2 separate regions of the Homo sapiens genome follow, and region 1 is linked to region 2. The links come from fine-mapping of genetic effects on plasma protein levels. A gene starts in region 2. The other region holds a variant in brackets. All regions are shown on one strand. Distances are between the middles of the regions.

Region 1 (5,303 bases), 17 kb before region 2:
TGCCCTCTACCAGGCCCACAGCCAAGGCCAACGCAGGAGACTAGGGGTCGACCCCCACAGCGAGGACGGCTCCATCCACCTTCCTGGCCATCAGCCTCCGGCTGCTCAGAGAGGACGCTCGCACCAGCCCCTCTCCAACTCACAGGGCCCTCCACAAGTACACGATCACGTCGGATCTTCACACGCAGTTGGGGAGAAGAGCTCCGTGTCCCCCTTTCAATAAAGAGAACACTGGCCCAGAGCAGCGCAGTGACTTGACACAGGTCTTACTGTTGGTGGCGGGGGGCAGGGGGAGCCTTGAATCCAGCCTCCGAAGAACTATCTGTGTTCCTCATCAAAGCTGCAGGGCGCCACACATGCATGCCACTTGCTTCCCGCCCACTTTAAGCTGGTGGTGGGCACAGGCAGCCCACCTCCACCAGCCCTACAGACCAACCCCTCCTCTCCCTCATCCAGGGCCTGGCCACCAGGGAGGGCAGAGTGAACACAGAAGACACAGGCAGGCAGAACCCCTGGGGCCAGCATGCCCTCATGCTGGCCACGCCCAGGCAGCACCCCCAGGCCAGCTCGCCCTCACACAAGCCATGCCCAGGCAGGGCGCTCAGATGCGGGAACAGGGCTGAAAGGATCCACAGTACTTTGAAACCAGCCAGAGACAGCAGCCAGCTGTGCCAGGTCTCGTGCCCGACTGACACCCAGTGCTCCAGGGCAAACTGCACACTGGACCCTCCAGCAGGGCCGGGCCCATCAGGCACGTGGGGGCCTCTGATGTCCCTTCACAGGAAAGAAGTCACAGAGGTTTCTCATCTGGCCAGAGTATGCCTGGGAGCAGAAGGGTCGCCTTCCAAGCAATTAATAAGCCCAGAGAACAGACAGAAGCACAAAGCATTTAGGCCCCGCTGAGGCCGGCCCTACAGAAGTCTGTGTTCTACAGGGGGAGTTCAAGAGGAGACAGCAGCCCGGGCCGTGCTCTGACTTAGCAAAGCTCAAAGAAAATGAAGAGGCACTTTCAGGTGACAGAGAACTGAAGCCAGTAATGCTGATGAGAAGGTAATGGATTCCAGAACCAGCAGTCGGACGGTGTGGTCAAAGGATAGCTCTTTCAGAGAGTCTCAGTCTCAGCCTAGTTTCCAAGAACAGCAGGAAAGACAGGCAAGAAGCGGGAAGCCTTGAAATCTCACAAGCAAACACAATAAGAGGCCGCCTCGGCACCAGCACCTCGGGCCCTGAGCCCCGGGCTCTGATGGCTCCTTCAAAAGCATCGCTCCTGCACCTCCTCGAGACCTGGCGCACACAGGGCAACCAGGAAGAGGGGTCCAGACCAGAGCTGCCAGGAGGTGGTCACCTGCAGGGGCACCGCGACTGAAGGGCAGGGGCCAACTGAGCGGCTGCTGGAGAAAGATGAGCACAGGGTCCTGGGAAGGATGGGGCAGGAGGACAGACAGGACCAGACCTGGGAACGGTCCAGCTACCTGTCTATAAGAATACCATCCCCAGCACCCAGGGTGGTCCCCCGGCAGCTCCACCCCACATCCCACCACCCAAGCGCTGGCACTCAGCTTGGCACAGACTGCGTGAAGAGGCTGCTACAAGCACCAGACAATCGTCTTCCACTATGGTGGGTGAGAACCGTTTGGATCTGTGTCCCTGCCCCATGCCTCATGTTGAATTGTAATCCCCAGTGCTGAAAGTGGGGCCCCGTGGGAAGTGTTTGGATCCTCGAGTGGATCCCTCACAGCTTGGGTCTGTCTTCATGATAGTGAGTTCTCATGAGATCTGGTCATTTAGAAGTGTGTGGCACCTCCCTCCCAACACTACTCACGCTCGCTCACTCTCTCGCTCTCTCATTCCTGTTTTTGCATTGCGGCGTGCCTGTTCCCCCTTCACCTTCCGCCATGACTGAAAGCTCCCTGCGGCTTCACCAGAAGCCGAGCAGATGCCAGCACCATGCTTCCTGTACAGCTGCAGAAGCGTGAGCCAATTCCACCTCTTCTCTTCATAATTACCCAGTCTCTGGTATTTCTTTATAGCAATGCAAGAACAGCCTAATACAGTGGGTTTTTCTTAATTCTAAAAACTCAGTTCATCTCCACTGGTTACAGTTCCCTAAAATGAATGATTTCCCCCAAAAGCAATTATTTCCTCGGTATACACCAAAAAGAGTCCTTTCACAAAGCCCCGCAACGCAGGGCAATCAGACGCCTGCCACTGGTTTGCTGTGGATATTCCGCTTCTGAATGAAGATGTTACTAAGGCTTCAGCAGGATGAGTCACTGGGTTCCACTGCCCCATCCGCTGGGAAAGGCCTCATTAAACCTGAGCAGCCCAGGACAAATGCCCCGCACCAGCCACAGAGATGCCTGGCTGGAGACTGCGCTGGTGAGCCGGAAGCAGGCTCTGCTCTTCACCCAGGACCCTTCAAAGAAGGCGGGACCCCGGAGACACCTGCCCTTCCCTACCTGATGCTCAGGCCCATGGTCTGGTCCAGTCTCTCCCAGCTTTGCAGCTTGGCCAGCAGCCTCTGAAAAGACAACAAAAGCACAGACCCTGTCATCACCTGCCACAGGATCATCACATAAGACTGACAATCATGATCACGGTGCTAAGTCCCTGACCTCTCAGGAGAGCCTGCCCTCATCTCTGAGCTGGGCGCTACATGCTCCAAGTCTGCTTGGAAGTGGCCGGGTTATTATTCCCCAACTGCAGAAGCCACACTGGCGCTTCCTGCCTCACTCCTTCCTGGCCCCGTAAATTCAAGTGTGAATCCCAGCAAGCTAAAAGCAACGTGTGGCTGTGGAGGGAGAAGGCAGACAGCCTCAGAAAGGATCCTGGGGTTGACTGTGCCCCAGGGAGCAGCCTCGGGTCCTTGAGCCGTTAGGACTCATCCCTCCCCCATCTTCCAGGGGCTCCTCAGGGAACCAAGCCCTGGAGCAGACAGACTCAGTCCTGGAGCCAAACTTCCTGCCATCACACAGCAGACCAGGACCAGCAGGCCCTAGGAGAGGAGGGCAGCCACCCTGGAGCATGAGGGAGGGTGA[G/C]ACACTGCCTACAGGCCAGCCCACCCCTCTGTGTCACATGCCTGTCCCATGCTGAGCCGCATCCCAAAGAGGTGAGTCTCACGGCCCTTCTAGGACGGAAGCAATCTGAGGGCAGGGACTCTGTGCCTTTGTTCTGGCCTCGCTTCACCTCCACCCAGTGCCAAGCACCATGCTGTTATCAACGCTCCACTCGGCAAGTCAGTGAGGTATTCTCACAGCCCCTCCTATGCGCAGGCACGCACTTGACTAGTAACTATATGACAGCCAACGCTACAGAACATTCGCTACGCGCCAGGCACTGCTCTGAGCACTTTGCATAGACTCATGTGAGCCTCACAGTCCTGACAAGGCAGCCAGCACCACTCCTCCCTGTGCAGACGGGGAGACAGACAGGGAGATGAAGGAGCTGGCCCAGGGACATGGAGCAGCAAGCACCCAACTACGGAATGTGGCTTGAGAGCCCCAACTCTTCAACCATCAAACAATAAATTACACCGCGGGAGAGAGAAAAGATGTCGCATGGGAGCTGTCTTTTCAGGCTAAGCTCCTACAGAACCCAGCACCTGAGAGAAGAGTCCCTGCCAGATACCCCCGCTGACAGGGAGCCACCTCACCGTGGGTCACAGGGCCAAGGCCCCAAAACGACCTTGGCTGTATCACAGCTCTGAAGAGGACAGAGACGCCACGCCACCCAAGGGGACTCTGGAAGTGGCCAGCTGGACAGCTGGGCAGCTGCAGAGCACTGCAGATGGAGTCTGCCCTCCTGCCAGGCCCCACAACCACCGGAGAAAGGCGGCATAGGTGTGCCAGGCACAGAGGGGAGTGGCTGTGGCCACAGGGAAGTGGCATGAAGGACAGAGGACCCAGGCAGGGGCCAGAAGGCCTAAATTCTGGTCCAAACTTGCTGTGCACCGGGCAAGAGAGGGAGCTTCTCTGAACCTCAGTTTCCTCCTCTGCCCGCAACATGACTGCAGGATGTTTTCCAGCACTGACACCTTCCTACCAACTGCCGCGGTGAAGACAGAACACCCCCAGCACAGGGCCCTGCCAGCCCTGATCCTCACAGTGCCACACGCATTCTGACTCACCCTCTGTACCAGTTTCCTGCTGCAACCGAAACAGATCACCACAAACTAAGTGGCTTCAAACAACACAAATTGGTGCGGCACAGAGGCTCACGCCTGTCATCTCAGCACTTTGGGAGGCAAAGGCGGGAGGGTCACTTGAGCCCAGGAGTTCAGGACCAGCCTAGGCAACACAGGGAGACCCCATCTCTACAAAAAAAAATTTAACATTTAAAAAGCCTGGCCGGGCATGGTGGCTCACGTCTATAATCCCAGCACTTTGGGAGGCTGAGGAGGGTGGATCACGAGTTCCAAGAGATCAAGACCATCCTAGCCAACGTGGTGAAACCCTATCTCTACTAAAAATACAAAAATTAGCCGGGTGTGGTGGCGCACGCCTGTAGTCCCAGCTACTCAGGAGGCTGAGGCAGGAGACTCGCTTGTACCCGGGAGGCGGAGGTTGCAGTGAGCCGAGATCGCACCATTGCATTCCAGCCTGGGGACAGGGCGAGACTCCATCTCAAAAAAAAAAAAAAAAAAAGCCCACAAATGTAATATTTTATAGTACTTTAGATCGGAAATCCAAAACGGGTCTCCCCGAGCTGGAATCCTGGTGTTGGCAGGGTTGTGTTCCTTCTGCAGATTCCAGGGGACAGTCCACTTCCCTGCTCTTTCCAGCTTCCAGATGACCCACATTCCTTGGCTTGTGGCCCGTCCTCCATCTCCACACCCAGCAAGAGCTGCCAAGTCCCTCTCACATCACTCTGAGCCCCCAGGATGGCCCAGGAGCCCCTCCCCGCCGTGGGCCAGCTGACCAGTCACCTCATTCGCCCTGCCAGGGAAGGTGCTGTGTTCACAGGCTCTGAGGATGAGGCATGGACCTCTCTGGGGACCACGATTCTGCCTCCCACCCCATCACAGCAACCTCCATGTTGTAGGTGAGCAGCTGGTGGGCGTGACCACAATACCGAGGCTCCTCCAGGCAGGGCAGAGGACACCCACAGGAACCGCACACCACACAGGCCCTCACCTCGTTCTCCAGCTCCAAGCCAACCAGCGTCTCCTGCATCTTCTCCTGGCGCCCCAGCTTCCTCTGCAGCCCTTCCAGCTCTTCCTGGAGCAGCCCGTTGGTCTCTCTCATCTCCCTGGCAGTGCCACAAAGAGTCGCTCAAATAGCCACACACCCTAGGGATAAGGCCAA
Region 2 (5,291 bases):
CCCGCCTGCAGGGGGCACGACCGGCAGGGACCAGGAGTCCCAGACACACCTGATCCGTGTGCCACCTCTGCCTGGAGCTGACTACAACGGAAAGAAAGGAACCCTGAAAGTTTACCCTTACGTTAAATCAACACGATGTGTGAGAAACCAGACAGCACACATTCCCCCGGCCTGCCATGTTCTCCAGGCCCTCCCTGCCACGCCGGGGGCTCAGCAGGAGAGAGAGAACCACGACGAAGTCCAGGAATGGGATGTGACAGGGGCCAGGGACCAAGGCTGGTCTTGCCGCCATCACTCCGCTCACCACCTTGCTCTGACTACCGCACTCCATCACTGATCCCCTCACCGAGAGGCCTTTACCAGTGAGCACTGGGGGCCTCCGAGCCCCAAGACAGACTCTAGAATCCCACAGCTTTGACAGACAGGCCAAGAGGTCCCAGACATTCGCAACACTAAAATCACAGCATTTCAGACCAGAGTTGCCAACTCTGTCACCCGGGCTGGAGTGCAGTGGCGCGATGGCTCACTGCAACCTCCGCCTCCCAGGTTCAAGCGATTCTCCTGCCTCAGCCTCCCGAGTAGGTGGGATTACAGGTGCCCACACCCGCCTAATTTTTGTATTTTTAGTAGAGATGAGGTCTTACCATGTTGGTCAGGCTGGTCTCAAATTCCTGACCTCAAGTGATCCAGCCACCTCAGCCTCCCAAAGTGCTGGGGTTATAGGCATGAGCCACTGCAACCAGCTCAGAGTTGGCCACTTCTCATTTTGTCAGTGATAAAAAACAACTACCATCTATTACCTTCATAATTTCACAAAAGAACATTTACATAAATATTATATATATACACACACACATATATATATATATGACCTAATCTCAGAATAAAAAACAGTCCTCATCAAGAAAGGGCAGTGAGCAAGCTAGCAACTAGCATTCTTTTTTTTTTTTTGAGACAGGGTCTCACTCTGTCACCCAGGCTGGAGTGCGGTGGCGCAATCTCAGCTCACTGCAAGCTCTGACTCCCGGGTTCACACCATTCTCCTGCTCCAGCCTCCCGAGTAGCTGGGACTACAGGTGCCACGCCCAGCTAATTTTTTGTATTTTTAGTAGAGACAGGGTTTCACCGTGTTAGCCAGGATGATCTTGATCTCCTGACCTCATGATCCGCCCACCTCAGCCTCCCAAAGTGCTGGGATTACAGGCCTGAGCCACCACATCTGGCCACAAGCTAGCATTCTAATAAACACACATTAATTCAATTATGCAACAAAACAAATGCACACGCACACACAGTTTAACCAAATGCAGCAGGGCCTCATCTGGGCTCTGAGAGCGCAGGAAGCCAGAGCCTCCTCTAATGCGGACAGAACTACAGAACGGCTCTGGGGACCGCAGCAGGGACTGGGAAAGAGGGTCCAGGCAGAGGAGCCTAGAGGAGCCTGCGCAGCCACAGGGCCCAGGCAAGGCTGGAGACACTACTAGCCAGCACTCCACTCCCCACCACTCCCTACAACTTGGGGGCCCCATTATCGCAGCCCCAACTGGGACTGGGCTCATCACTCTTTGGAGCCTGAAGTCCTTCAGGAGGCCTGAATCCTCTGCAGTTGTGTCTACAGTGAGAAACCCCAAGAACTTGTAATGAAACAAAATACAACTATTTTATAGAAGAAAACTGTAAAAATCACCCCAAAATCTGTAAATGGCCCTCCACAGTCTGAGACCACAAAACACCCAGTCCTTCTGCTCACTGCTGTGGCTTTGTCTCTGGGCTGCCCAGGCACTCTCAGCACTGTGTTTCCAACACAGCCTTCCCGACAGTCCTGGTGCTCACTCCCCCAGGCAGTTTGGGTTCTGTCCTCAATTAGATGAATGAACTGGCTTTCCGATCCTGTCACCAGGGTCTGTGAGTGCACTTGTGTGAACGCAATGCTGAGCGCCAGGCCCACTCAGGGCGCTAACAAGGCAGGCCTTTAAGCCAGGATGGCTCAGGGCCCCAACTAGCCTCCAGCTACGACCCCAAAATGAGGAGTGCCCATAGTGAGACCTGGGAGACGAATAGCTGTCTCTAGGCTCTGCTAATACCGACCCACCTCAACTACAGAAGACTGGAAGAGGTCCTGCCCGGGCCCAGGGTCTCCCCAGAGCAGACTCCCACCCAGGCACATGCCACTCACCTGCATGCTCTGCTGGTACTGCATCTGCAGAGAACCTGGGGCCGAGGTAGAAATATCCAGTCCAGAGCCTCCCTCCACACGCTGAGAGATGAAGTTGTTCAAAGATCTCAGGGTGGATAAAACCATGGTGTTTTCCCCCAGGTCTTCCATGGTTGCTTTCCTTCCGGGGACAGACAAAGGACTGGTCAGGGGCAGCCTTTCCACGTGCCATCAGCCGTGCAGTCAGCAGAGCCTCTGGACAGCCCCACTCCCCTAACGCACATTGGAGCTCATAATACACCCATGCCTGTAACCACATTCTTCAATGGCAACTGGGAGCCATGCTGCCAATTTACCAGACAAAAAATGGAAGCAAGGAAGCATGCCACCAAATCCCCACCAGCAAGCCACCAATTGAGTCTCAGTTGCACATGGACAGATGGACAGCTGGCGCCCGGGAGGCGGGGCTCAGCACTCAGGTGGCACGTCCCCCAACTGCACTGTAAGAGGGTTCTCCAGAGACACAGAGCCAACAGGACACAGAGACAGACACAAGAGAAGGGCTTTATTGGGGAAACTGACTCACGCGATTACAGAGACTGTCCCACAACAGGCCGTCTGCAAGTTGGAGCCCTGGAAGCCTGGCAGTGTGACACAGTCCAAGTCTGAAGGCCTCAGAGCCAGGGGTCCGATGGTGTAATTCTCAGTTCGAGGGGCTGCTGGGACAAGTCCTGGAGACCAAAGGCCGGCGAGCTTGGAGTGCTGCTGTTGAGGAGAGGAGAGGAAGAGTGTATCCCAGCTCCTGCAGGCAGATGGACACATTCGCCTTTTCTCTGTTTTTGTCCTCTCCAGGCCCCCAGGCTCTTAGATACTGCCCCTGACTCTGAGGATGGATCTTCAGCACCTGGTCCACTCAGACTCCCAAGCTCATCTCCTCTGGAAACACCCTCAACAGGCACACCCAAAACCAAAAATGATGCTTTCCCAGGTTTCTAGGAATTCCTGAATCCAGTCAGTTGATGCCTGAAACTACCTACCAGGAGCACTCACAGCAAAGTCTGGCCTCTTGCCCAGGCAGGGTGGTTCACGCCTCTAATCCCAGCACTTCGGGAGGCGGAGGCAGGTCCGGAGTTCAAGACCAGAATGGCCAACATGGCAAAACCCCACCTCTAATAAAATACAAAAACTAGCCGGGTGTGGTGGTGTGCGCCTGTAATCCCAGCTACTCAGGAGGCTGTGGCACAAGAATCGCTTGAAACTGGGAGGCAGAGGTTGCAGTGACCTGAGACCGCACCACTGCACTCCAGCCTGGGTAACGGGGTGAGACAGTGTCTCAAAATAAATAAATGAATGAATAAATAAATAAATAAACATAAGCCAGGCACTGTTGCTCATGCCTGTAATCCCAGCACTTTGTGAGGCCAAGATGGGCAGATCACCACAGGTCAGGAGTTCGAGACCAGCCTGGCCAACATGGTGAAACCCCATCTCTACTAAAGCCAGATGTGGTGGCGTGCACCTGTAATCCCAGCTACTCCGGAGGCTGGGACAGGAGATTTTCTTGAACCCAGGAGATGGAGGTTGCAGTGAACTGAGATCGCGCCACTGCATTCCAGCCTGGGTGCCAGAGCAAGACTCCGTTTCAAAAAATAATAATAATTAATTAAAAAAAAAATCTGGCCTCTGGGAATCAGAAACGAGGCATGCAACAGTGACAGTAAAGATGATGATCATCACAGCTGTGCTCATTTTCATTGTTTATTTCTAGTGACATTAATAAGTACTACTACTATTTTCAACTAGGTATCAGAAAGAAAGGTATCTGACATTTCCGAGCACCGAGACTTCTTGAACTTCAGTTTCCTCATCTGTAAACTCATGACAGTGAAATCTACTTGCAAAGTTGTGGGGAACGGGGCCAATATCCCTCAAGTCTTCCACCGCTAGATGATGGGAATACGGCTGCAGGTTGACCAGCACTATATTTGTAAGCTCAGTCTCAACAGGGTGGTGAATTAGGTCTTTTTACACAGATTCTAGAGATGATGAAACCGAAGCTTCAAAAAGTTACAGAACGGAGATTGGAACTTGGGTCTGTCTGGCTTTGGAAGGCTGAAGACAAACCGCAGTAAAGAACTTTGCACCCCCAACACCGGCGCTTACTATGGGCTCATGGCAGGCCGGCCCACCAGCCACAACTAGGGAACAGCCAAGCGCGTTTAAAAGCCAAAGGTAGAACTTCTGCAGCTGCACAGTTTCTGAGTTTCCATTTAACAAGAACCTTGGCCTGGTGCAAGCAGAGGCCTGAGCTCCCCAGGCTGCCAGCCCCGCAGAGGCAGGCCCGCCTGGAAGGAGGCTCCACAGCCCAATTCCTCCATTGCCCAAACGAGATCAGGGTGGCCCTTGCCATCCCCGAGGGGAAACCGGGCCCACACGCCCCCTTCCTGAGAGCGGACCGGCGCGAGCCACCAGGATGCCAAGAGCCCCTGCAGCCCCGACTTCTCCACCAGGCGCCAGCTCAGGCCCCTTCCTCGGCGCGCCGGCACCCTAGCCCGGGGACCCACACGGTAGGCAGCGGGACCCCGGGGCTGGGACCACGAGCACGCGCCCCTCGGCCGCCCGCCCTGGCACAAGGGACGGCTGCGGAGACCCAGGCGAGGGGCCCGCTGTCCCCAGCACAGCCCAAAGGGGGAGTGGGGACAGGGGAGTGGGGAGAGGAGGGGAGAGCACAGAGAGGAGAGCGCGCCCATGGGAGACGGGGCGGGCGCGGGGTCCTGAGGCACGGGGTCTGGGTCGTTGTGCCCCACCCTGGCGAGCACACCCGGTCCGGGCCCTCGGCCCCTCCCTTGCCATTCCCGGGACCCCCGGGACCCCGGGACCCCGCCGCCCGCGCGAGCCGGGCCGCTTACCTCAGCCGCTCGCAGCCAGCTTGCCGCCGCCGCTCGGATCTCCCTCCGCTCCGCCGGCGCCCATTTATCGCGACACTTGCGCCTGCGCTCTCGCGAGACCTGCGTGGCAATCGGGCCGTAAAGAACCGAGTCTGCGCACCGGCTGATCCTGGGGACTCCGCGTCCGCACCCGGAGCCGCCACCCCTGGGAGACTCCGCACGGAAAGGACTCGGAACCGAAGGCTGAG

Alleles and levels. Positions count from the first base shown, and alleles are read on the strand shown. Strength reflects both the effect of a copy and how common the allele is.
For the plasma level of the protein whose gene starts at base 5,138 in region 2, C is the high allele of the variant in region 1 and G is the other (moderate association).

Evidence for each region. PIP is the chance, under the fine-mapping model, that this variant and not a neighbour inherited with it causes the effect. The UK Biobank Pharma Proteomics Project read protein levels with antibody pairs (Olink). The fine-mapping took linkage between variants from a reference panel, not from the people measured, so its PIPs are less certain.
Region 1: its variant is fine-mapped to the plasma level of the MAD1L1 protein (UK Biobank, PIP above 0.99).

The regions. Positions count from the first base shown.
Region 1 is chr7:2,210,753-2,216,055 of GRCh38, forward strand. It overlaps MAD1L1 (mitotic arrest deficient 1 like 1), which reads right to left. Exons shown (of 19, transcript NM_001013836.2): 9 at 5,133-5,247; 10 at 2,460-2,521. Among named protein-coding and RNA genes, the nearest start is that of MAD1L1, 20 kb to the right of the region's middle. The variant G/C (reference allele first, on the strand shown) is at 3,039.
Region 2 is chr7:2,227,808-2,233,098 of GRCh38, forward strand. MAD1L1 (mitotic arrest deficient 1 like 1) reads right to left here and starts at 5,138. Exons shown (of 19, transcript NM_001013836.2): 1 at 5,065-5,138; 2 at 2,742-2,920; 3 at 2,177-2,336. The coding sequence starts at 2,326. RefSeq lists silencers at 4,637-5,056, 5,034-5,291 and enhancers at 5,047-5,291, 5,127-5,256.